Homo sapiens: one gene and its partners. The protein of the gene in region 1 interacts with the protein of each later gene in a pairwise test. Each region holds a gene or a part of one and is shown in the gene's direction. Other genes may lie near its edges. The genes, in order: FAM83A, NCK2, CSNK1E, PRDM14, FGFR3, PSMA3 and TRIM23.

Region 1 (3,500 bases):
AATTAATTGTGTGATTACAGGGCCATGGTTCTAATGATCACAGCCTCATTATTAGAACATCTTTTCCGATTTCCTGCCCAGGGTGAGCAATCTCTGAGGAGTTCCCTCCCCTGTCCAGCTATCCATCCACATCACAGAAAGTTGATTCCAAGTGGATACCAGCCATCAGTTTGGCCTGCCAGTAAGACACCTCTCTTTCCTTGGCTACTTCCCAGATGGCGGTGGTTTTAAAAAATATATTGCAATGATTAGAAAGATAGTGGAAACTTATTATTACAGGTAATCTTGAAGAAAGGGAATGGCCGTATTCCCTGTGAAAGGAAAGTATCTTTGGCCCCCAAAATCACTAAGGAAAACTCAAGCTGGAAACTGCTTAGGGCAAACCTGCCTCCCATTCTATTCAAAGTCACCGCTCTGCTCACTGAGATAGATGCATATCTGATGCCTCCTTTGGAAAGACTAATCAGAAACTCAAAAGAATGCAACAGTTTTTGTCTTACTTATCTGTGGCCTGGATGCTCCCTCCTGGCTTTGAGTCTTCCTGCCTTTGCTTCCAGTTGTCCCACCTTTCCAGATTGAACCAAAGTACTTCTTACATCTATTAATTGATGTCTCATGTCTCCCTAAAATGTATAAAATCAAGCTGTGCCCCGACCACCTTGGGCACATGTCGTCAGGACTTCCTCGGGCATGTCCTCAACCTTGGCAAAATAAACTTTCTAAATTAACTGAGCCCTGTTTTATTTTCTGGGTTCACATCCCCCATCCTAACATGACTGTTAGTTTTTGCTTTGGGCTTACCTACAATCATGTACGGAATAATGACATTTTGGTTACTAACAGACCACATCTATGACAGTGCTCCCATAAGATTATAATGGAGCAGGTGGGGTGGCTCACTCCTGTAATCCCAGCAATTTGGGAGGCTGAGGCTTAAGGATTGCTTAAGCCCAACAGTTCGAGACCAGCCTGGGCAACATAGTGAAACCCCATGTCTACAGAAAAAAAATGAAAGAGAGAGAGGAAGAAAAGAAAGAAAAGAAAGAAAGAAAGAAGAAAGAAAGAAAGAAAATTAACATTTTAAATTTTTATGTATTTTCTTATTTTTTTATTTTGAGACAGAGTCTCTTTCTGTCACCCAGGCTGGAGTGCAGTGGTGCGATCTCGGCTCACTGCAACCTCTGCCTCCTGGGTTCAAGCGATTCTCTTGCCTCAGCCTCCCCAGTAGCTGGGACTATAGGCGTGCACTACCAGTCCAGCTAATTTTTTTTTTTTTTTTTAGTAGAGACGAGCTTTCACCATGTTGATCAGGCTGGTCTCGAGCTCCAGATCTCAAATGATCCGCCCGCCTCGGCCTCCCAAAGTGTTGGTATTACAGGCGTGAGCCACCGCGCCCGGCAGTAATTAACATTTTTAATGACTGCCTAATAAGCTGCTTGTCAGTATATCACAATTAAGGTATTAGAAAGGACTCATGACTGGGTGACAGAGAGTAAACCCAAACAAGCTTAAGAAGAAGAGAAACATTCATTAACATCCACAGTGGAAAAGTCAAGGGTGGCACTGGTCTCAGGCATGGCTGGAACCAGGTGTCCAAATGACAATGCTGGGACTCTGTCTCTACCTCCTGGCTGCTTTCTCCAGGGATGGCTTCATTGTCAGGCAGGCTCTCCCCAAGAGGTAGCAAAAATGGTTGCCAGCAGCCATTGCTTATAAAATACCAGCTAAGCAACCTCGTAGAAAGAACACCTCCTTTTCCCAGGAGTCCCAGCTAAAGTCCTGGGCTGACTCTTATTAGAATAACTTAGATCATGTGACCACCTCTGGACCAATGTCTGTGGCCAACAGGGGATGCCATGCTCCCATTGGTCTAGCCTTGGTCATGTGGTCTCCCCATATCCAGTCAAAGAATGGCAATAGACCCTTCCAAACCACATTGATTGTGGAGGGGAGGCAATTACTTAAAGTCAGATTGGGATGCTGTTGACAGAAGAAGGGAGAATGAATGCTTGGCAGGAGGAACACAGATGTCTCTCCTGCTCACTGAAGGTCTAGAACTCCCCTCCCCAGTTTCTACTGTGACACATGATGCAGTAGCTGTGGGTAGAGCGTGACTCCCTTCTCCATCCCACGGGGAGCAGCTTGCTCTAGGCGCTTATATACGGTGCCTCCACATGGGATTTTGTTTGAGGATAGGATTCCACGGCTTAACAGCATTTGAAAATCAGTGGCCATAGTGTGCCCTCTAGCTCCAAGTGGCTGAGAATCCATAACCTTAACTTTATTCCTCTTCTGGAACCGGTTGAGATGCTTCTTCTTGTTCTTCTCTGCTCTCCTTCTCTTTCTAGACTTTTCCCTTCCTCCTCTGCACTCCCCACTCCCACAATGGGCATAGGGGCCAACAGATAGGTGGTGGGACTGGAGAGATGGTATCAGGACAGGCGCAGGGGCCTCCACTCCAGCTCTTCCTTTTCCTTCCATTAATCCTGCCCAGTCAGACCCACTCTACCCCATCCTCTCCCCTCTGGCCCAATGGGAACAGCTCTCCCAGGCCCACTGGGACTCAGGCAGTTTGGGTGAAACCAGTTAGCACCTGCCCCTGACCTTTCTGGTAACTGAGCACTCTGCCCTGGCCCAGGTCCTGGTCATCCTGATGGATGTGTTCACGGATGTGGAGATCTTCTGTGACATTCTAGAGGCAGCCAACAAGCGTGGGGTGTTCGTTTGTGTGCTCCTGGACCAGGGAGGTGTGAAGCTCTTCCAGGAGATGTGTGACAAAGTCCAGATCTCTGACAGTCACCTCAAGGTAGGGGCCCCAATGAGAGTCCTAAGGGTACTCATATTAGCCCAGATAGGATAGTCTATGCAATAGTAACAAATGTCCCTCATCTTGTGTTAATAGCTTAACACAATAAAGGTTCATTTCTTGCTCAAACAAACTCCTATGTAGGTCAGATGGCCCTCCTCCATATTGTAGCTACATCATGAGAAATACACGGCCTCTAAGATAACCATGACAGGGAAAGAGAAGGCTGGGAGACTCTGCAGGATGTTTCCAGGATCTGACCTGGAGGAGATTTCCATCGCTTTCTCTTATAACTCATTGACCTTACCCAGATGCACGGATGCTGGGAAATGTAAAGGGTCATGGGTATCTGGTGAGCAGCATCTCTGCCATGTACTCCAGTTCTCCTCTCAGCTGGGGAAGCCCAGGGATTGCATCTTACAGGGCAGGCAACCTCCAGGGTCTGTGGGTGCATGTTCAGAACTCCCTGGTCCCAACAAGACATTGATCCTCTTGGACTTAACTGAACCCCGTACTTCCCTCTCCTGGCAAAGAGAAAAGAAACCCAGCGATAAGGGTTTGATTCATCACATAAATTTGAGGACAACTAATTCAAATGTGAACACCACCCATAGCTTTCATGAGTAGGCCTGGGTGAACAGCTGATTGGTGGCCCTCAGAGTTCTTTTGATCAGTCTCCTCTAGTTCAGGCAAG
Region 2 (3,500 bases), on another chromosome or scaffold:
TGGCCATGACCTGCACACGGTGGCTCTCCATCGTACTTGGGTCAGTGACTCAAGTCCCCAGCATGGCAGTCATGGGCTTGCACGACTGGGCTGCCTCTCTGTTTCTCCCAGCATCTAAATATCCCCTTCCCCATATACACACATGCTGAGCTACAAGTCATCTGTGGCCACCCACTGATGGTTTGCTAATTGTGATAACAAAACTAAGTTTATAATCAGTTTGTTTTTAAAGACTCTCTCCACTGGGACTGGTTCAGGGTTCTCCTGTGCAGTAATGGCAGGGCTACCCCACTACAGCTTTGCATGGAACTGAGCATGGGCCCAGCTCTCTGTCATGGGAGGAGAAGAGACTAACTGCAGAAAATGGTGCGTATGTGTGTTTTAATATGGACTGTCTCCCTGCAAATGCCATTTGAACTGATGGATTGTCAAGAGCAGTGCTGACCCCTTGAAATACAATGTGAACCACAAATGCAAGCCCCAGATGTAATCATAATGTTCTGGTAGCCACATTAAAAATGTAAAACCAAACAAGTATTATTAATTTTCATCCTATATTTTGCCCAATATATATATAAACTCTATGTGTAATCAACATAAAATGTAATTAATAAGATAACTCATATTCTTTTATTTGCGTGAGGGCTTTGAAATTCAGCATATAGTATATACGTTTACTGCACCTCTTGGCTGCCTCTCGCTGCATTTTGATTGGCCTTGGCCACACGCGACTAGTGGCAGCCTTGTTGCGGAGTGTGAGTCTATACACTTTTCATGATTTAAGCCTCATTTGCTGTCTGTTTTCCAAAGTTGAGATAGCTAAAGAGACAAAGTGGAAACAATGTAGAATAATTATAATGGTCATTATTATTATGCTTTACTGGGAAAGGTGTAACCTTTTTAAATATGAGGAGTAATGTCATCCTTCAGACACTCAGCACATGATGTTTTAGAGCACTAAAATCAGATTCAGTTAAAACTAATATCTATCATCAAAATACCTTGTTCATTTTACAAATATCTTAAAATGTGGTTTGAATTCTAGAAGTTACCAGTGTAAAATAACATTTTTGTATATCAGTATTCAACACATTTCCTTTTAAAAAATGTGTTCAGCACCATAGGAAAGGTAAAAAACAACATTGTATACAGTGATGGGGTACAGGTGTTATTTTGTTACATAAATTGCCTAAGGGTGAATTCAGGACCTTTATTGTATCCATCACTCAAATAACATACATTGTACCCATTGAGTAATCTCTCATCATCCACCCCTTCCTACCCCATCACCCTTCAAGTCTCTGGTTCCGTCTGGATAATGGCCTCCAGTTCCATCTGTGTTGCTGCAAAAGATATGATTTCATTGTTTTTTTATGGCTGAATAGTCTATTTTCTTTATCCAGTCATCTGTAGTATTCATATTTCTGATAACATGTTAAGTACAAGCTAAAATCATGTATTTTTAAAGTGAACATTAGCTTCTCTCCCACACGGACACAGACACACACACACACATTGTAATCACTGTTCTAAGCACTTTCCATGTAATAACTCATTGAGTCCTCACCAACAGAACGTGTGGTACTTTCTGTTTGTATCTTCATCGCTAAGGAAAGGGAGGCACTGAGGCTGCCATGTCTTAGGTTCCACAGCTAGACTCTGACCAAGCTAGCCACCATCCCTTCATTAAGATGTATCTGAAAATACATAAAACAGAACTGTAAACTTTTATTATGGTGTAAGATTTGAGAAACATTGATGGAAAATCATTGATAGGGAGTGTAGCTTGCATACAGGTTCATTCTGGGAACGCCTTATCAGCCAAGTGGTTGGGGAAGGCCCTGGACTTTGGAAGGGCCTAATGAATAACTGGTACCTTGGAGGAGGGGAAGCCTTGGATGGTCATCACTGAGGACCATTGGCCTGGCTGCTCCTCTCCCCCAGCCCCCTTGCTATGTTCCGTAGGCTGGTGGTCCTCCACCTGCCCAAGTCTCCAATTCTGCAGGAAACACCAGCATTCCCTGGGGAGAACCGCTGCTGGAGGGAACTGCAGTGGCACTGGATGAGGGGGAGTATTTTCTGTTGTAGTCACAGTGTATTAGCTCAAGTGGTCATGCAGGTGCCATTGTAAATGCCTGTGTGATGTGCCTCTTCATCAGTAGCTGTGTGGTGGGTCCCCACCCTTGTCTCCTCCACACTGGGGGCTGAGAAAACAGGAGTGTGTGTCTTCTCACTCTTCCAAGTGGCCCCCGGACTTTTGTGCTGTTGGAATAGCTTGCACAAGGCCATTTTTGCTGCTTCTGTTTTTCCTTAATGAGTTGCTGTTGTTGAAGTGAAGGTAGGCAGGTAGGTTCTTGCTGAAAACCTTGTAGCAGGACATACCAAATCCTTTTCCTTTGTGCTTTTATGACATCTGGGAAGGTCTTGAAGAATTCCAAGGTGGCTTTGAAATCTGCTTCTGAGGTTGTGAGAGAGGCCAGGTCAAGTCCAAATGTAGATTCTTGGGAGACTGCTGCTACAGGTCCTGATGGGAACTCTGACACTGGCTGCTCTTCCAAGTGAGTTGTCTGTGCCAGCTTCTCGAACCTACCCTTTTGTGTTAGGAGGGCCACTGGGGCCATCAGAGTGTTGAGCAGCCCTCCCTGGAGCAGATGGGACTGAGATAGGACGGTGAGTCTGGCGTCTCTGTTGGGAGAAGCTCCTGCATGTTCCAAGTTTCAGAGGGGCTGCAATTTGGGCAGTTTCTTTCAACTCACAGGTTTAGATTTGCAGTCACACTACCTCTCATGTGGCCACTTCTACACGTAGCAGGTTCCAGGATATGTGGTGGCAAAGAATTGTTTACTTCAACATGCTTAATTTCCCAGCAATGGTGGGGGCAGCCAGGAAGTGAGAAGTGAAAAGTAAGTTAGAAAGTGGTGAGATCACAGGGAGATGCCTAGAAAGACGCCCATGCCCATCTTAGAGGACAAAGTCCATCAATGTCTCCTTCGATTTTCCTTAACGGTTATGTCTCCCATTTAATATCTTAAGAATTTTGGTTGCGTGTTTAAGGATGTCTGCAAGTCAACAAATATTTTAATTATGTCACTTATGAGCCTGGCTACAGGAGAGGAGAGCAGTTGCTGTCTCTTTCATGCTTTCCCTCTCATCAGCTGTCTTCATTTTAAGGACAATCACTTTAAAAGCTTGTATTCCTGTTTGTGTGTGTCTGTGGGAGGTTGGGGGGAGCTGCTGCATTGGTAAGAAAGCAGCTCCCCCAACAACTTTTTTTTTTTTTTTTTAAACTGCTCTGCATGATGGAAGCCAGCTTGGAGACATTGACATAAAAAGCACAAGCTACTTGAATATTTTTAAGAGACCAAGAAATAACAAGGGATTCAGGGAGTTATTTTGAGACAGTTTTTGGGAAATTTAATATAGGTGAAGAGTGAATTTTCATCAAACGATTAAAAAAAAGTGAAACAACCTTGGTTGCAGAATCTAGCAAGATGGTTATA
Region 3 (3,500 bases), on another chromosome or scaffold:
GCATGGTGGTGTGTTCCTGTAATCCCAGCTGCTTGGGAGGCTGAGGCAGGAGAATCGCTTGAACCCAGGAGGCAGAGATTGGAGTGAGCTGAGATCATGCCACTGCCCTCCAGTGGCCACCACATCCGGCAAGGCAGATGGGACCATTTCCTTCATCCAGAACGTTCTGTGGACATCACTGCTCTAGGTTCCTCCCTTATGGAGTCTCACAAGACTGTCTAGCCAGCAAGATCTCTTTTCCAACCAGGCCAGGAGCACCTCTCCACCCACTGCTGCTGGTCTGACCGCCTTCCTGGAAGTCCCTCTTGAGGCAGGCCCTGGAGTTAGAAGCTGGGCAGAGGCACCCACAGCCTTATCCTTTGCCAATCTCTGACTCAATGCCACGGCCACTGTAGTGAGCTGAACCACCTCCAGCAGTCCCCTGGCAGAAGCACCTGGAAAACATGCAATGGGAACCTTCACCCTGAGGCCAGGCCCTTCCCATGCTACCCAACAGTAGACAGGACACCCTGTGTTGTTGGCTGCACCGGGGTGCTGGGATCTGTGGATCCCTGGGGCCTGGAAGCCACTCTCAGCACATACAGCCACTGTGTTCCGAGGTCCAGTCAGCTGGCCGGGAAGGAATTCAACACAGCCAAGGACAGAGGTCCATATGATGACGGGTGGATGCTCGTGTGACTTTGCTGACCTTTTATGTTTTCTATGGGCAATAAAGGCCAAGAGAGCTCCCTGCTGTGTGTTTCTTGCGTCCTATGGGTTGGATGGGACCATGGAGAGTCGCCCACTTCTTGCCTCGGGGCTGGCAATGGCCTGAGCCTGCTGGGCTCACAAAGGGCAGGGGCTCCAGCCCTCTGCTTGGCTGCTGGCTGCAGGGCTCCACACCTTGGAGTGAGTCACTCAGCCTCTGTATCCCAAGCATGGAAATGAGATTGACCTGCCTCACAGGGTTGATGTGACTCTGCCCGCAGAAGGTTCGGCACGGAGGTGCCACAGCTCGTGTTCCTCCCCAGGCTTTGCTGTGGCTCTGGCTGAGTCACTGTTGGCCAGCCTGCAACCGAGTGGGAGCCCAGGGTGAGGACCGGAGGTCAGGAGTTAGAGCCCCGGTGGTCCCAGGCCTGCCTGAGAGGCTTCTGGGTGGGAGGATGGGAAGATGCATCTTCTAGAGTGTTCTAAGGCAAGACTCTGAACAGTGACCTCTTGGGGTGCAGAGAGCAGAGTGGGACTAGGTGGCAGAGGCCTGGGTTCAGACCCTAGCTCTGCCCTGAGCTGTGCAACCCCGGGCAGGTCACAAGGCCTCTCTGGGCCTTGGTGCCTCACTAAGATTCAGGGATCATTCTGGTCCTAGCCACTACTTCCTGGAGTTGCTTAAAGACAGGGCCCACCCCCACCTCTTGGCCAGTCTCCTGGGAGAGACATGGGTTGCAGGAACCACACCCTGTGCCCATGAGCAGGCCCCCAACTCAGCCCAGAGCTCTCTCCTCCACAGATGCGGCCCCCTTCCTGCCAGCCCCCTGCCCTTCCCTGTGGACGGCCCCAGGATGAACTAGGTAACGCAGTCGGGCGCTGCCCCCACATATGCTCTTCTCTGGCCCCTTCTCACTTCCTCCTGCACCAGGGGCGGCAGTGGCTGGACAGCAGGGCACCTGGGGGCTTAGGGTACCCCTTCTGCTCCAGCTTTGCCTGCTGGGCCTCTTCTTCCTCCGTGGGGAACGTGGCCCCATTTTCTTCTCCAGCTCCCCTTGAGCTTCTGTCCCAAGGCAGGCGGTGTCTGTGGGTTCCCTGGGCCTCCTGGCTGTGGCCTCCACTGCACCTGCCAGAAGCCATTGCCAGGTCCCGGCAGGGGGAAGGACAGCTCCCTGATGAGAAGAGCCCCTGGCTAGGTACCGGGAGAGCTGGTCTGAGTCCTAGCCCAGCCTTCCACTAGTTTTGTGACTCTGGGCCTGTTCTTTTCCCCCTCTGGACACCCCTAGCCAGTCTGCTAGAGGCCTCTAAACAGCTTTCCTGCTCGGTTTAGCAACCTTGAGTAGTTAAGGGCTCTTGGTACACAGAGGGGGGCCAGGGCAGGCCCAGCCCCAGGTCAGGAGGGCCAAGAGGTGCTCTTGATCATCCTGGGCGCATTAGTTGTCCTTTCTCTGGCTCCATCCCAGGAGAGCAGGGCAGACTGACCTCCCTCTGCCCCCAGACTCCTGCTTTCTCCTTCCTCTGGTGGTTGTGTGGCTTCGTGTCTCTGTGCTGTGTGATTGTGGGTCTTGGCTTCCCGCGCTTGTCAGGGAGGCTGGAGCAGAAGGTTTCTGAGATATCCACCTGGCCTCCCTCCCCTTCTGTGCCCTGCAGGGCTGCTGGGCCCAGAGCACCCTGGCCTCTGGGGCTGACTGGTGTCTTTTCTTGCATCCCTGCAGGGTGCAGCCCGGAATCCCGAGGATGTGGACCGGGAGCGGCGAGAACACGAACGCGAGGAGAGGATGGGGCAGCTACGGGGGTCCGCGACCCGAGCCCTGCCCCCTGGCCCACCCACGGGGGCCACTGCCAACCGGCTCCGCAGTGCCGCCGAGCCCGTGGCTTCCACGCCAGCCTCCCGCATCCAGCCGGCTGGTGAGCAGGGACTCAGGCAGTGGGCTGGGTTCAGGGTGGGTGGGGGGCTCTGTTTGTGCCTACTCTGAGGGTGGCTTCCCACTCTCCCTCCAGGCAATACTTCTCCCAGAGCGATCTCGCGGGTCGACCGGGAGAGGAAGGTGAGTATGAGGCTGCACAGGGGTGCGCCCGCCAACGTCTCCTCCTCAGACCTCACTGGGCGGCAAGAGGTCTCCCGGATCCCAGCCTCACAGGTGAGCTGCCCCCCTGCCAGTCCCTCTGGGCCTCAGAACTGAGTTAGAGACCCCCCAGTGGGAGGTCAGGCCGTGGCTCTGTTCTTCCCTTTCCATCGACGCTGCTTGCCTTGGAGTGAACCCCTTCTGTAGAGCCAGGACTTGGCCTCATTTAATCCTCTGAGGTCTGATGAGCCCTCTTGAGCAAAGTCATTCACCAAGGCTCAGGGCAGTAACATTCCCTGGCAAGTGGCACAGCTGGGCTCCAGTCCTCGCTGCCAGGGGCCCAGCCAGGGTGGGCAGCAGGGGCTCAGAGATGAGGTGTTGCTGCTCCCTGACATCAGGGAGCCCCCAGGAGCCCCTGTGAGCATTGGCAAGAGCATGGGGTGTAGGGGCAGTGAGGTCCCATCCTCTTTGGGGCTATGTTTGGATGGGGACACTTGGGAAGGGGGAATCTGTAGTTGCCCAGGGCAGGTGGCCTGGCAGAGGTGGGTGGGAGCCCTGCCCTCGTCCTCCTGCCTGTGGGCGAGGAGGGAGTCCTGCGAGAGAACCCTCATTGGCCATCTACTTAGGTAGCAGGTTTGCCTCCCTGGGCAACATTCTTAGCTACAGACAGGGACATCTTAGAGTCACTGGAATCACACAGGCCTTCCCTCAGCTTGAGGGGCTGCCTGGAGGTGGGGGTGGGGGTACACC
Region 4 (3,500 bases), about 53 Mb from region 1:
GTGAAGGTATTTCTCGCTTATTAGACTGGCAAAAGTGAAAACTATCCAGTATTCTGATAGTGAAAAGTTTGAGACTGCATGTTCATCAACACAAAATTGATTATATAAATTATGGCTTACTGGCCAGGCGCAGTGGCTCACGCCTGTAATCTCAGCACCTTGGGAGGCTGAGGTGGGCAGATCACCTGAGGCCAGGAGTTCGAGACCAGCCTGGCCAACATGGCGAAACCCCATCTCTACTAAAAATATAAAAACATTAGCCGGGTGTGGTGGCAGGCACCTGTAGCCCCAGTTACTCTAGAGGTTGAGGCAGGAGAATTGCTTCAACCCCAGAGGCGGAGGTTGCAGTGAGCCGAGACTGTGTCATTGCACTGCAGCCTGGGTGGCAGGAGTGAGACTCCATCCCAAAAAAAAAAAAAAAATATTGTCTTATCAAGCAAAAACCAAATTACAGAAGATGTATAGAATGCTTGCTCTCTTTGAAATTGGAGGCCGGGAGTGGTGGCTCACGCCTAATCCCAGTACTTTGGGAGGCCGAGACAGGTGGATCACGAGGTCAGGAGATCAAGACCATCGTGGCTAACATGGTGAAACCCCATCTCTACTAAAAATACAAAAAATTAGCCAGGCGTGGTGGTGGGCACCTGTAGTCCCACCTACTCGGGAGGCTGAGGCAGGAGAATGGCGTGAACCTGGGAGGCGGAGCTTGCAGTGAGCCGAGATCGCGCCACCGCACTCCAGCCTGGGTGACAGAGCGAGACTCCGTCTCAAAAAAAAAAAAAAAGAAAAGAAACTGGAGGGCTGTCAACCAGGAGGTCAGTAGATGACAGGACTGATGAGGAAGCTGGTGATAGTGAGATGATGGCTTACCCTTCAACAGACGAGGTGCTCTTACAGTACAGTGGAGGAACAATCTTTTTTTTTTTTTTTTTTTTTGAGACAGTCTCACTCTGTTGCCCAGGCTAGAGTACAATGGCATGATCTCAGCTCACTGCAACCTCCACCTCCTACGCTCAAACAATCACCCAACCTCAGCCTCCCAAGTAGCTGAGCTGAGGCTATAAGTGCATGCCACCATGCTCAGCTAATTTTTTGTATTTTTTGTAGAGATGGGCATGTGGTGCGCACCTGTGGTCCCAGCCACTCGGGAGGCTGAGACACCAGAATTGCTTAAACCCAGGAGGCAGAGGTTGCGGTGGGCCGAGATCATGCTACTGCACTCCAGCCTGGGCAACAGAGCGAGGCTCTGCCTCAAAAATAAATAAAAATAAATAAATAAACAAATACAAAGATTTGCTCTCTCCTCTGCCCCATAAGCATGCCTGGAAAGAGGTTGTGAAAGCACAGAAACCTTTCTCAGAGAAAAATTGTTTTTTCTCTTTAGTTAGTGTAATTTCCTTAAAAGTGATGTCAAAACCAAAGGCCTTCTGCTTTATCCCTGGCAAACTCTCGGTGCTTGCACCTCTCTGGTAGTTTACTTCACCTGGTGTAGAATTCCTGAGACAGTTTCGAGAGGAGTTGCCAGGGTCAAGAAACAATATTAATTATTCACAGCGTGTGAACAAAATATTAACCTCTTCATGCAAGTTCAACACGTCTCAGATAATCTGCTACTGTGCATTACCATGTTGGCTTACATGTTCATCGTCACCCCTCCTTGATTTCTAGCTCCTGGTTTCTAGCAGTGTGGAGCACACAGTAGGTACTCTGTAAGTCGTAGATAATTGTTGAGTTAATTGCACAGTACTTGTAGTTTACTCATAGCTCTGTGAGGAAGGCAGAGCAGGTATTTTGCCCATGAGCAAGATCGGGAAACTAAGATTCCAGATTTAACCAATGTTCTGTAGTCACACAGCTACCTGTTGAGAGAGCAGGACTAATTCAGGCCTCTGCCATATACCACAAACCTGTTCAGTTCCCACATTCCACATCTGAAGCAAGAGTTCTCTCAGGTCGGGTGCCGTGGCTCAAGGCTATAATCCTAGCACTTTGGGAGGCCAAGGCAGGAGGATCTGTTGGAGTTCAAGACAAGGCTGGGCAACATAGTGAGACCTCATCTCTACAAAAAAAAATTTTTTAAGTTAGCTGGCTTAGTGGCACGCACCTGTAGTCCCAGTTACTCAGGAGGCTGAGGTGGGAGGATCGCTTGAGCCTGGGAGTTCCAGGCTGCAGTGAACCGTGATTGTGCCACTGCAGTCCAGTCTGGGTAACAAATTGAGATCCCGTCTCAAAAAAAAAAAAAAGAAAAAAATTGGAAAAGAGTTCTTCTCTAACCCCAGGTAAACGCAAGGTTGAAATGGACTTGTTAGAGGAAGGTGTGATTTCAACTATATTTTTCTTTTTCACCTTAGTGTTCTACATGTGGGAAATGTTTCTCTCAATCTTCCAGCCTAAACAAACACATGCGAGTCCACTCTGGAGACAGACCATACCAGTGTGTGTATTGTACTAAGGTAAATGGAACCTCTTACTAAGGGATGTGTCCTGAGCTCTGCTTGAGTGTCTATGGATAAGAACTTGAAACAAAGCCTGGCTTAATGAGTTCTTGGTAAATGTTAGTCAAATATCAGCCCAGTCCTCATTTCCACCCCTAAATATGCTCAAGTTTGCTAAAGATGGTCAAATATAACCAACCTCCTATTGCCAAGCTGGCATTTAGAGTACATGTAATAAAATACATTCCAAATTTATGGGGACCTGATGACCTATTACATAGTATTTAAAAGCACTAGCTGAGTGTGGTGGCTCACACCTATAATCAAATTTTCCATGCATCGGTGGCTTATGCCTGTAGTCCCAGCTACTTGGGAGGCTGAGGCTGGAGAATTGCTTGAGTCCAGGAAGTGGAGGTTGCAGTGAGCCAAGATTGCACCACTGCACACTCCAGCCTGGGTGACAGAGTGAGACACTGTCTCAAAAAAAAAAGGAGGGGGTGGGGAGGCGTGGTGGCTCAAGCCCGTAATCCCAGCACTTTGGGAGGCTGAGGTGGGCAGGTGCCTGGAGATAGGGAGTTCGAGACCATCCTGGCCAGCATGGTGAAACCCCATCTCTACTAAAAATACAAAAATTAGCTGGGCATGGTGGCACGTTCCTGTAATCCCAGCTACTTGGGAGGCTGAGGCAGGAGAATCACTTGAACCCAGAGGCAGAGGTTGCAGTGAGTCAAGATTGTGCCACTGCACTCCAGCCTGAGTGGCAAAGTGAAACTCCGTCTCCAAAAAAAAAAAAAAAAAAAAATCACTATTTCATAGTATTTAAGAACACAAACATGGCCAAGTTTCAAATCCTGCCTCTGGTGCTTACCTAGCTGTGCCACCCTGAGCAAGTCCATGAACTCCTGTTAGTTTCCACATTGATAAACTGGGGAGAATAGTCTTTACCAAGTTGTTGGATAACATCAGTAAAGTATATAAAACTCTTGTAACAGTGCCTGGCATAACATAAAAGTACTACTGGAATGTTAACTGCTATTATTACTACTTTAATCTGTGAAGGATGCT
Region 5 (3,500 bases), on another chromosome or scaffold:
GGACACAGGTGTGGACACAGGTAGGAGCAGGGTCCAGGGTTCAGGCCAGCCGGGGTGGGGCCCGCTGCCACCGCCAAGCCCTGCCCTTCACAGGCAGCTGAGGGACTAAGGCCCCGGAACAACCTCCCTGGGGTCACCCCGAAGGTCTGGTCCCCTCAGGATACAGGAGGGGCTGGGTCACTGACATGGCTCTAGATGCCCCACCCTGGTGGCAGGGCTGGGGTGCAAGGGGACACCGTGTTGCTGATGGGGAGACTGAGGCACAGGGCCCTGGGGGTTCCAGGAGCAGGAGGAGGCCAGGGCTGGCCTGTGGGGCTCTGGTGTTGGCTATAGGTGAGGTGGACCCCGCAGACATTAGCGCAGCAGGGCAGGGCACTCAGGTGGCTGCCGTGGGGTGGATGGACCCGGGGTGAGGGCGCCGGGGCACCTGCCACAACCAGTGGCGGGCAGGGTGGCTGGCAGGAGGGTGGCTGGTGGGTGGGCTGCGGCTGTGAGAGAGCAGTCGGGGACGATGCCTGGCGTCCCGGCCTGGAACGGTGGCAGGTGGACTTTGCCAAGTTGTAGGGTGGGGAGGTGGGGCTTCTGGTTTTGGAGGGAGCTCTGAGGGGAGTGCGTGCAGGTGAGGGTCATCGTGGCACAGACATGGGGGGCAGTTACGACTTGCGGACTGATGGTGTGTGCGCTGGGTCCCTGGGCCAGTGGGGTAAGCAGGTGAGGAAGGGAGGCTGAGTCCATGAGAGAAACAGCTGGGGGAACTCACCCTGGGGGTCTCCAGGAGGCCTGGGAGGGAGCTCAGCACCGTGGGGTGCCTCTTTCCAGCCTGTGTCCACACTGCTGCTTGCTGGGCCTCAGTGCCCCTGATGGGCGTGTGCCTGGAGGGGGCTGGCAGTGAGCTCACTGAGGGGAGGGCTGCTTCCCTCCTGGGGAATGCCAGCCCATCCTTGCCTGGAGTCCCGGCAGGAAGGCAGCACCAGCCCTGAGGAAGGAGAAAAACCAGTTGGGCTGTGAGAGGGGTGGTGGGAGCCCTGGACATCGAGATGGGAGGAGGCAGGGCCTCCAGGGTGCCACCGTCTCTGGGTGCCCGCCAGACTTGGAGCTCTGCAGAGGGTGGTGTAGGGTCTTGATTTCCGTGGGCCCATGCTGCCCAGCTGCCTCCAAGGCTCCTGGCTCTGCAGGCGACTGGGCTCCTCTCCTGGTAAACTGCTCCCAGGTCCTGGCTTGTCCACTAGATGGGCCTGCCCCCTGGGTCTTCAGTCTCCCCGTTGGTGGGCCTGGCCCTGGCACGCCTCTCTGGGCAGGTGGGCTCCCCTGGACAATGCCCTGTGCCCTGTGACTTCACAGGTCCGGGCAGAGCACCCTGGAGGGGAGGGGAGGGGACACACGGCCCAGCTCTGAGAAAGCCCCGGGGAGGGGACAAGATGTGGAGGCTCCTGGGAACCTCATCCCGCCCTCTTCCTACACAGGACGGGAAACTGAGGCTGGGGATGGGCAGGGGCAGCTCTGGGAAGGGGGTTGTTCAGAGGGGCCTCTGCTCCCACTCGGGTCATGGCCTTCACACGCACCTCGGCCCGCAGGGGCCCCTTACTGGACACGGCCCGAGCGGATGGACAAGAAGCTGCTGGCCGTGCCGGCCGCCAACACCGTCCGCTTCCGCTGCCCAGCCGCTGGCAACCCCACTCCCTCCATCTCCTGGCTGAAGAACGGCAGGGAGTTCCGCGGCGAGCACCGCATTGGAGGCATCAAGGTGGGCGCGGCGGGGTGGCTCTGGGCCTGGCAGGCGCGGTGGTTGCTGCCTCCGCTCACTCACCCGCCCGCGTCCCGGTGCAGCTGCGGCATCAGCAGTGGAGCCTGGTCATGGAAAGCGTGGTGCCCTCGGACCGCGGCAACTACACCTGCGTCGTGGAGAACAAGTTTGGCAGCATCCGGCAGACGTACACGCTGGACGTGCTGGGTGAGGGCCCTGGGGCGGCGCGGGGGTGGGGGCGGCAGTGGCGGTGGTGGTGAGGGAGGGGGTGGCCCCTGAGCGTCATCTGCCCCCACAGAGCGCTCCCCGCACCGGCCCATCCTGCAGGCGGGGCTGCCGGCCAACCAGACGGCGGTGCTGGGCAGCGACGTGGAGTTCCACTGCAAGGTGTACAGTGACGCACAGCCCCACATCCAGTGGCTCAAGCACGTGGAGGTGAATGGCAGCAAGGTGGGCCCGGACGGCACACCCTACGTTACCGTGCTCAAGGTGGGCCACCGTGTGCACGTGGGTGCCGCCGCTGGGGCTCCTGGGCTGGCCCCAAGGGTGCCCCTTGGCTGCGGGTTGCGTGAGGATTTGGGTCTAGGGGTTGGAGCTTCGGGGGCAGAAGCTGTGGGGGTGCTTGTGGGGCCAAGTCTCAGCCACCCCACACCTCAGGGCCATAGGCAGCTGCGTTGGGACCCGTTTCCGTGTCTGCAGAGGGCCAGCCTCAGCCACTGAAGTCCCTGACATGGAGCTGCCCACGGGCTTCTTGGGGGTGGGTGCGGCTTGGGCAGCAGTGGTGCCCCAGGACAGGAGGGCAGTGTGGCCAAGCCCTCCAGGCCCCCTCTGGGCCTCAGAGGCGGTGGCTGAGCCCCGACCTGGCCGATTGGCTCTCGTCAGCTGTGTGCAGTGGGGCCCGAGCTCACTGTCTGCCCGCCTCCTGAAGCCCTTAGCTTTGTTCCCATGGCTGCCGGGTGGGGGCCACTGAATTGGGACGGTTGCGACACTCAAAGCCCAAAGAGAAACATCTGTTCAGAGAGAAGACGGTCTCTTGGGGGCGGGGAGCAGGCGCAGGGCGAGGGTGGAGTCCAGACCCCGCCCAGAGAGGCCGCCTCGGGCCCTGTCCAGGGTGCAGGTTCTGCAAGAGCCCGGGGGAGGGCAGGCCAGTGACCAGAGGTTGTCTGAGGGTCTGGGCTGGGTTGTTGGGGTGGAGGCAGAGACGTGCATCCTGTGAAACCACAGCCACCGTGAAGTGCCTCCACGCCTCCTCCAGGCAGCCTTTGGGGCTGACGCAGCCCAGCCTCGATCTGTACCTTGGGGGTCTCCCACATCCTGCCTCGTGCCCGGCGGGGCTGCCTCGGGGGCGTGCCTGAGCCGGGTCTCTTGTCCCCGCAGTCCTGGATCAGTGAGAGTGTGGAGGCCGACGTGCGCCTCCGCCTGGCCAATGTGTCGGAGCGGGACGGGGGCGAGTACCTCTGTCGAGCCACCAATTTCATAGGCGTGGCCGAGAAGGCCTTTTGGCTGAGCGTTCACGGGCCCCGAGCAGGTAACGACTCTGTCCCATGCCGGCCGGCACAAGAGCTCCAGCTCCAAGGCCCTGGCCGCGCGCCCTGCACGCCCCGCACGCCCAGCCCTGCTCGCTCCCGCCCCGGCTCGCGCTCCACTCGGGGCCGCCTCGGCAAGGCTGGCAGCTCCAGCCTCCACGGTGACCGCCCGCTTCGAGCCCTGTGGCCTGCGCCGACCCTTCCCGCACGCCTGCGACCCCCACAGGAGG
Region 6 (3,500 bases), on another chromosome or scaffold:
TTTAACCAGGTATTACATGTCTCCTTTTATTTTATATATTTTTGGCGATTAGGCTTTGTTATGTTACTTTGGTACAAATTAGTATATGTCCCCAAATCTCAATTTATTCATTTCCAGATCTCTTTCTAGGCCAGATGCTTTCCATGAGCCCCAGTCCTATATTTCTCGTTGATTCCAGGATTATCCACTTAGATTTTCCATGTTGCAGAGTGTATAAATCACATTCATTATCATCTTTTTGTTTTCCATTTTCAAATTCTTGATTTGTATCATAGGCTTCCTCAGCCATTAGGTTTGTGACCTTGTTATTTTTTATTTCTCATACATCTTGTGTTTTAAATGTCTTATGCAATTAGTCACATGTTCGATTCAGCAAAGATTTTTTCTATGTCTGTTTCTGTTTTGAGACCTGAGTCTCACTCTGTCACCTAGGCTAGAGTGCAGTGGCACGATCTTGGCTCACTGCAACCTCCGCCTCCTGGGTTCAAGTGATTCTCTTGCCTCAGCCTCCCCAGTAGCTGGGATTACAGGCATGTGCCACCATGCCCGGATAATTTTTGCATTTTTAGTAGAGACGGGGTTTTGCCACGTTGGCCAGGCTGGTCTCAAACCCCTGGCCTCAAGTGATCCGCTCACCTCGGACTCCCAGAGAGTAGCCCCAGTCCTATATTTCTCGTTGATTACAAAGAGCTGGGATTATAGGCGTGAGTCACTGTGGCCAGCCTAAATACGATTTTAAAAAGTCAGATTTATGCAAATATGAGGAAATATCTTTAAAAAATTGAAACCTTAAAAACGAATGTGTTTTTTCCTGAATGAAGAAAAAATGCAGCCGGGCGTGGTGGCTCACGCCTGTAATCCCAGCACTTTGGGAGGCTGAGGCGGGCGGATCACCTGAGGTCAGGAGTTTGAGACCAGCCTGGCCAACATGGTAAAACCCTGTCTCTACTAAAAAATAACAAAATACAAAAATTAGCCGGGTGTGATGGCACACGTCGTAGTTTCAGCTACTTGGGAGGCTGAGGCAGGAGAATCACTTGAACCTGGCAGGTGGACGTTGCAGTGAGCCAAGATTGCACCACTGCACTCCAGCCTAAGCAACAGAGACTCTGTCTCAGAAAAAGCTAGGATTTTAAAAATGAGACGTAGTTTCACTCTTGTTGCCCAGGCTGGAGTGCAATGGCACAATGTTGGCTCACCGCAACCTCTGCCTCCCAGGTTCAAGCAATTCTCTCAGCCTCCCAAGTAGCTGGGATTACAGACATGCACCACCATGGCCCGCTAATTTTGTATTTTTAGTAGAGACAGGGTTTCTCCATGTTGGTCAGGCTGGTCTCGAACTCCTGACCTCAGGTGATCCGCCTGCCTCAGCCTCCCAAAGTGCTGGGATTACAGGCATGAGCCACGGCGCCCGGCCTAAAAGTTCTTCTTTTTAAAGATGTATTAACCTGTCCTTTGATACTACACCCAAAGTGAACAAATGCTAGTTTCTTATTTTAAAAAAAAATGTTTATTTATTTTAAAAAAGAGGCATGGTCTCACTCACTATGTTGCCTCGGCTGGTCTTGAACTTTTGGGCTCAAGTAATCCTCCTGCCTTGGCCTCCCAAAGTGATGGGATTACAGGTGTGAGTCACTGCGCCTGGCTTATTATTCCTTTTTTTTAAAAAAAACTTTTTTTGGGGGCAGGACATAGGATCTCGCTTTGTCACCCAGGCTGGAGTGCAGTGGTGTGATTACAGCTTACTGCAGACTCGACCTCCTGGTCTCGAGCTATTCTCCTCCCTCAGCCCCACAAGGTAGTTGGGACTACAGGCATGTGCCACCACGCCTGGCAAATTTTTTGTAGAGACAGGGTTTCACCATGTGGCCCAGGCTGGTCTCAAACTCCTGAGCCCAAGTGATCCGCCTGCTTAGGCTTCCCAAAGTGCTGGTATTATAGGTGTGAGCCACCGCACCCAGCCGAAGTCTTTGAATTCTTATGAAAATAATTTTGACCTCGAAGACTGCCTGAAAGGATTTCAGAGATTTCCAGATTTTCAAGAATGTTTTAAACAGTGTGGAAGATGTTGAGTTGAGATAATTAAGACAGGCTTCCTGCTGGGCGTGAGCCACGCCTGTAATCCTAGCACTTTGGGAGGCTGAGGCAGGTGTATTGCTTGAGCTCAGGAGTTCGAGACCAGCCTGGGCAACATGGTGAAATCCCGTCTCTACTGAAAATACAAAAAATTAGCCGGGCATGGCAGTGCGCGCCTGTAATCCCAGCTACTTGGGAGGTTGAGACAGGAGAATCACTTGAACCCGGGAGATGGAGGTTGCAGTGAGCCAAGATCACGCCACTGTACTCCAGCTGGGGCAACAGAGCGAGACTCCATCTCCAAAAAAAAAAAAAAAATAGGGACAGAGTTTCAAAATGTTGGCCTGGCTGGTCTTGAACTCCTGGCCTCAGGCAAGCCTTTCACTTGGGCCTTCCAAAGTCCTGAGGTTACATTCTGACCTGTACTGCTTGAGTTCAACTAAGTTTGCAAACCTTTTGGGGAAATTCATTTAAATAGGCAGTAGTGAAGAGGAAATGTATTCTAGCATCCAGGATAACCTCAAAGACATGGAATCAAAAATGAACATGAGGTTTTTGAAGGTTGACAGTGAGGTAACCAGTAGAGTACAGAATTTATAACAGGAAATTGAATATGCTCAGGGGGTTCTGCCAGACCCTTAGGAGTTTAAACTTGCAAGGGGAGCCATGGAAGACACCTAAAGTGTTGGGGAAGGAGTGTCAGAAATTCTTAGAAAATTTGTTGTGTGCATCTGTTGTTCATTTTTCTGGGAGGAAATGCCATAGTTTCATCAGATTTTAAGAGGCCTGTGAATAACACAATTCCCCTGCTTTTTAGATTGTGGATCCCTTTTTAGATTCTGACTATGGCAAAATGAAACACAGCTAGGAATTAGGCTGGTCTTAGATTAAACGGATTAGAGAAGTAGAAAAGATGGTGTAGTAATCTAGGCCTGAAATTATAAGGATCCCAATGCTGGTATAATTATTGTAAAGAAGTGGACATGAAGGAAATTTTGAAGAAAAAAATTAATAGTAAATAGAAGCTCAACATGGAGGATGTAGAGCTTGGTGATGCTATTATCCAAAACAGAGAAGTTGTGCCGGTAGTCCCAGCTACTGAGGCTGAGGTGAGAGGATTACTTGAGCCTCAGACTTCAATTCAATCTTGGGCAGCATGGCAAGACTCCATTTCTTTAAAATTAAAAAAAAGAAGAAAGAGAAAGTTGAGATAATTTTACCAGAAAACTGTACAATCAAGCATTGCTTATTTTGTCTCTATTGTTTCCGATCAGAACTACCTTTATCAAAAAGGAATAGAAGAATAAAGTGTAACACATTTTCATCTTGAAATGGCAACAAGTAATTTCTCCACATTTTACTTGAGGTTGTGTGTGTGTGTGTTTGAGACAGGGTCTCACTCTGTTGCACAGACTGGTGTGCAG
Region 7 (3,500 bases), on another chromosome or scaffold:
CTGTTGGTTTGTATGTCTCATCTTTATGCCAGTACCACATAGTTTTCATTATTGTAGCTGATATGGCTTGGATCTATGTTCCTGCCCAAATCTCATTTCCAGTTGTAATCCCCAATGTTGAAATGGGGCCTGGTTGGAGGTGACTGGATCATGGGGGCAGTTTCTCATGAATGGTTTAGTATCATCCCCCTTGGTACTGTCTTTGCCATAATAGGTGAGTTCTCATGAGATCTGGTCGTTTAAAAGTGTGTGGCACCTCCCCCACCCTCTCTCTTGCTCCTGCTCCTGCCATGTGAAATGCCTCACTCCCTCTTTGCTTTCCACCATGATTGTAAGTTTCCTGAGGCTTTCCCTGAAGCCAAGCTGATGCCAGCATCATGCTTCCTGTACTGCCTGTGGAACTGTGAGCCAATTAAACTTTTCTTTATAAATTACCCAGTCTCAGGTATTTCTTTATAGCAGTGCAAAAACAGAACAATACATTAGCTTTGTAATATATTTTGAAGTAAGGAAGTGTGAGTCCTCCAACTTTTTTCTTTTTCAAAATTGTTTTGGCTATTCAGGGTCACTTGAGCTTCCTTATAAATTTTAGCTTAATTTTTTCTATCTCCACAAAAAACATGATTGGGATTTTGATAGGGATTGCATTGAATCTATATAAATTACCTGGGCTGTTATTCATATCTTAATATTTTATGTCTTTCAATCCATGGACATGGAATGTCTATTTATGTCTTAATTTATTTTAGCAATATTTGTAGTTTTTAGTGTACAAGTCTTTCACCATCTTGGTTAGGTGTACGCCTACATATTAGGTTGGTGCAAAAGTAATAGTGGTTTTTGCCATTAAAAGTACTGGCAAAAGCCGCAGTTGCTTTTGCACCAACATAGTATCTTAAGTCTTTCACCATCTTGGTTGAGTTTATTCCTAAGTATCTTAAACTTTTTTTTCTGTACATGTTCAGAGAAACTTCTTTAGTCATAAACTATAAAAATGATCCCTGAAAGTATAATTTTGATGCTATTTTAAGTAGAATTGTTTCCTTAATTTCCTTTTGGGATTTTTATCATTAATGTATAGAAATGCAACTGATTTTCATGTTGATTTTATATCCTGAAACTTTGTTGACTTTATTCTAATAGGTCTTTTTGTGTGGACTCTTCAGGGTTTTCTACATACAAGATCATGTCATCTGTGAAGAGATATAATTTTACATCTTCCTTTACAATTTGGATGTCTTTTATTATTCTTCTTGCCTAATTGCTCTGTGGGCATCTTCTTGTTCTTTATCTTAGAGAAAAAGCTTTCAGTTTTTTGAGTATGATGTTAGCTGTGGGCATTTCTTATATGGTGTATGTTAACTGAGGCAGTTTCCTGCTACTCCTAGTTTGTTGAATGTTTTTATTATGAAAGGGTATTGAATTTTGTTAAATGCTTTTTCTGCAACTATTGAGATGATTACGTGCTTTTTTTCTCTCATTCTGTGTATTATGCTGATTGATGATGAATAATTCTTGCCTTCCAGTTATAAAGCCCATTTGGTCATGGCGTACAATCCCTTTAATATGTGTTTTTTTTTTTTTTGAGGCGGAGTTTCGCTCTTGTTGCCCAGGCTGGAGTGCAATGGCGCGATCTCGGCTCACTGCATTCTCCACCTTCCGGGTTCAAGCGATTCTTCTGCCTCAGCCTCCTTGTAGCTGAGATTACAGGCGTGCGCCACCATGCCTGGGTAATTTTGTATTTTTAGTAGAGACGGGGTTTCTCTATGTTGGTCAGGCTGGTCTCGAACTCCTAACCTCAGGTGATCCACCCCCAACCTCGGCCTCCCGAAGTGCTGGGATTACAGGCATGAGCCACCACGCCCGGCCTAATGTGTTGTTGAATTCAGTTTGCTAGTATTTTGTAGTTTCCTCCTGGTTGCACCTCATCCTCACTATGTTGGATATGGGGAAGGGCAGGGATGAGTGCACAGAATGCCCCAAATTTTATTACCCCTTTCACTGGAATGCCTTCTTGGTTTTATGGCCTGGGTGCTGTAGTTTCTTAACTGTTCTCTAGAGTTCTCACAGAAGTAGTTCTGTTCCATATATTGTTTTATTTCTGAGGTGTATAACTGGACTTAAGTATAGATTTGGAGCCATAATATACATGGTAATTAAAGCTCATGAAGAGAATGAAAATATGTAGAATGAGAAGGAGGCCTCATATAGACCCTCAAGAATACCAACATTTAAGAGCTGGATTAAAGAAAAATTAGAAGGAACATCCAAAAATGGGATAAAACCAAACCAGGAAAAGTTTGTATCATAAAATCCAAGCAAAGAGTGCTCAAAGGAGTAAGCAAAAATAACACATATATTTTGGGAACTGTTGTAAGGACTTTTATATGTATTCTTAAAAATTAATCCTTTCAAGAATCCTATGTAAATTTTGTACTATTTTAATCCTCCTTTTATGAGATGAAAGAAGTGAAGCAGAGAAATCATGCAGCTAGTAATATATAAAAATGTTCATTATAGCATTATTTGTAATATCATAAAATCAGAAATTACCTAAAATCTATCAGTTGGGGGTTTAGTTAAATTGTGGTTTATGAAATGTAAAGAAGCCATTAAAAGAAAAAGGTTGGTCAATATGTATTGACAGGATTCCATAATATACTGTTGAGTGAAACACATTAGTTTCAATGTGTGGGTAATACTTTTTTAAAAAAAAATTTGTTTTGTTTGTGTATGTTGGCCAGTATGTGCATGGAAAGTGTCTGGAGGGATATACATCAGATTCATAGTAGAAATTTCTGGGAATTGAGCAGCACTTTTTCATTTTAATTGATTTACCCTTATTGTGATTTTTTTAGTATAGCATAAAAACATGTTTAAGATTTAGAGGATTCATTTGAGTTAGAAAATCTGAGAAAATTAAGTGGGTATGTATATTCTGTTATACAAAGACAAAGTGGTCAGTTTTACTAAGGCAAGATTTAGCCATGGGGAAGGATTTCATCTTCTTGAGATCAGACTCAGTATTTTGAGGAATACAATTCAGATTGCAATGGTTGAGGAATGAATAGGAGATGTAGAAATAATAAAGGTGCTAAATGCTATTACTTTCTAACTGCATGTCAAACATATTTAAAAATATTTAAATTGTAGGATAATCGAGTTCACATTGGACCAAAAATGGAAATTCGGGTCGTTACGTTAGGATTGGATGGTGCTGGAAAAACTACTATCTTGTTTAAGTTAAAACAGGATGAATTCATGCAGCCCATTCCAACAATTGGTAAGTATGAATATTGGTTTTTACCTTAATAGACAAACCCTAGCTTACAGCCAAGTTCTTGGGGTCTTATTTGATACTGATCTGTCATGGTGGTGGGCTCTTTTCTGGCTCTAAGATATCAGCATCTCAGAGAAAAAATGCAAGATTGTATGACTATGGGATTGAAATGTGGATGGGGATAAAAAGAAGAAACAGAGTATTGGTGGGACAGTTGGAA

What was found.
Region 2: the proteins of FAM83A (region 1) and NCK2 interact in binary tests that used the Homo sapiens proteins (3 or more experiments, as listed by UniProt).
Region 3: the proteins of FAM83A (region 1) and CSNK1E interact in binary tests that used the Homo sapiens proteins (3 or more experiments, as listed by UniProt).
Region 4: the proteins of FAM83A (region 1) and PRDM14 interact in binary tests that used the Homo sapiens proteins (3 or more experiments, as listed by UniProt).
Region 5: the proteins of FAM83A (region 1) and FGFR3 interact in binary tests that used the Homo sapiens proteins (3 or more experiments, as listed by UniProt).
Region 6: the proteins of FAM83A (region 1) and PSMA3 interact in binary tests that used the Homo sapiens proteins (3 or more experiments, as listed by UniProt).
Region 7: the proteins of FAM83A (region 1) and TRIM23 interact in binary tests that used the Homo sapiens proteins (3 or more experiments, as listed by UniProt).

The regions. Positions count from the first base shown.
Region 1 is NC_000008.11:123,189,165-123,192,664, forward strand, and holds part of FAM83A (protein FAM83A), read left to right. Parts: intron 1-2,638; coding exon 2,639-2,806; intron 2,807-3,500. UniProt on the Homo sapiens protein: Involved in mitochondrial maintenance during adipogenesis. May be acting by playing a role in the maintenance of normal mitochondrial function.
Region 2 is NC_000002.12:105,751,412-105,754,911, forward strand, and holds part of NCK2 (cytoplasmic protein NCK2), read left to right. Parts: intron 1-3,500. UniProt on the Homo sapiens protein: Adapter protein which associates with tyrosine-phosphorylated growth factor receptors or their cellular substrates. Maintains low levels of EIF2S1 phosphorylation by promoting its dephosphorylation by PP1.
Region 3 is NC_000022.11:38,293,434-38,296,933, reverse strand, and holds part of CSNK1E (casein kinase I), read left to right. Parts: intron 1-2,399; coding exon 2,400-2,592; intron 2,593-2,685; coding exon 2,686-2,825; intron 2,826-3,500. Other genes in the region: TPTEP2-CSNK1E (casein kinase I), read left to right, coding at 2,400-2,592, 2,686-2,825.
Region 4 is NC_000008.11:70,054,253-70,057,752, reverse strand, and holds part of PRDM14 (PR domain zinc finger protein 14), read left to right. Parts: intron 1-2,351; coding exon 2,352-2,453; intron 2,454-3,500. UniProt on the Homo sapiens protein: Transcription factor that has both positive and negative roles on transcription. Required for the maintenance of embryonic stem cell identity and the reacquisition of pluripotency in somatic cells.
Region 5 is NC_000004.12:1,799,793-1,803,292, forward strand, and holds part of FGFR3 (fibroblast growth factor receptor 3 isoform 1 precursor), read left to right. Parts: coding exon 1-20; intron 21-1,574; coding exon 1,575-1,744; intron 1,745-1,827; coding exon 1,828-1,951; intron 1,952-2,042; coding exon 2,043-2,233; intron 2,234-3,121; coding exon of another isoform or gene 3,122-3,272; intron 3,273-3,500.
Region 6 is NC_000014.9:58,247,843-58,251,342, forward strand, and holds part of PSMA3 (proteasome subunit alpha type-3), read left to right. Parts: intron 1-3,500. UniProt on the Homo sapiens protein: Component of the 20S core proteasome complex involved in the proteolytic degradation of most intracellular proteins. This complex plays numerous essential roles within the cell by associating with different regulatory particles.
Region 7 is NC_000005.10:65,596,834-65,600,333, reverse strand, and holds part of TRIM23 (E3 ubiquitin-protein ligase TRIM23), read left to right. Parts: intron 1-3,153; coding exon 3,154-3,283; intron 3,284-3,500.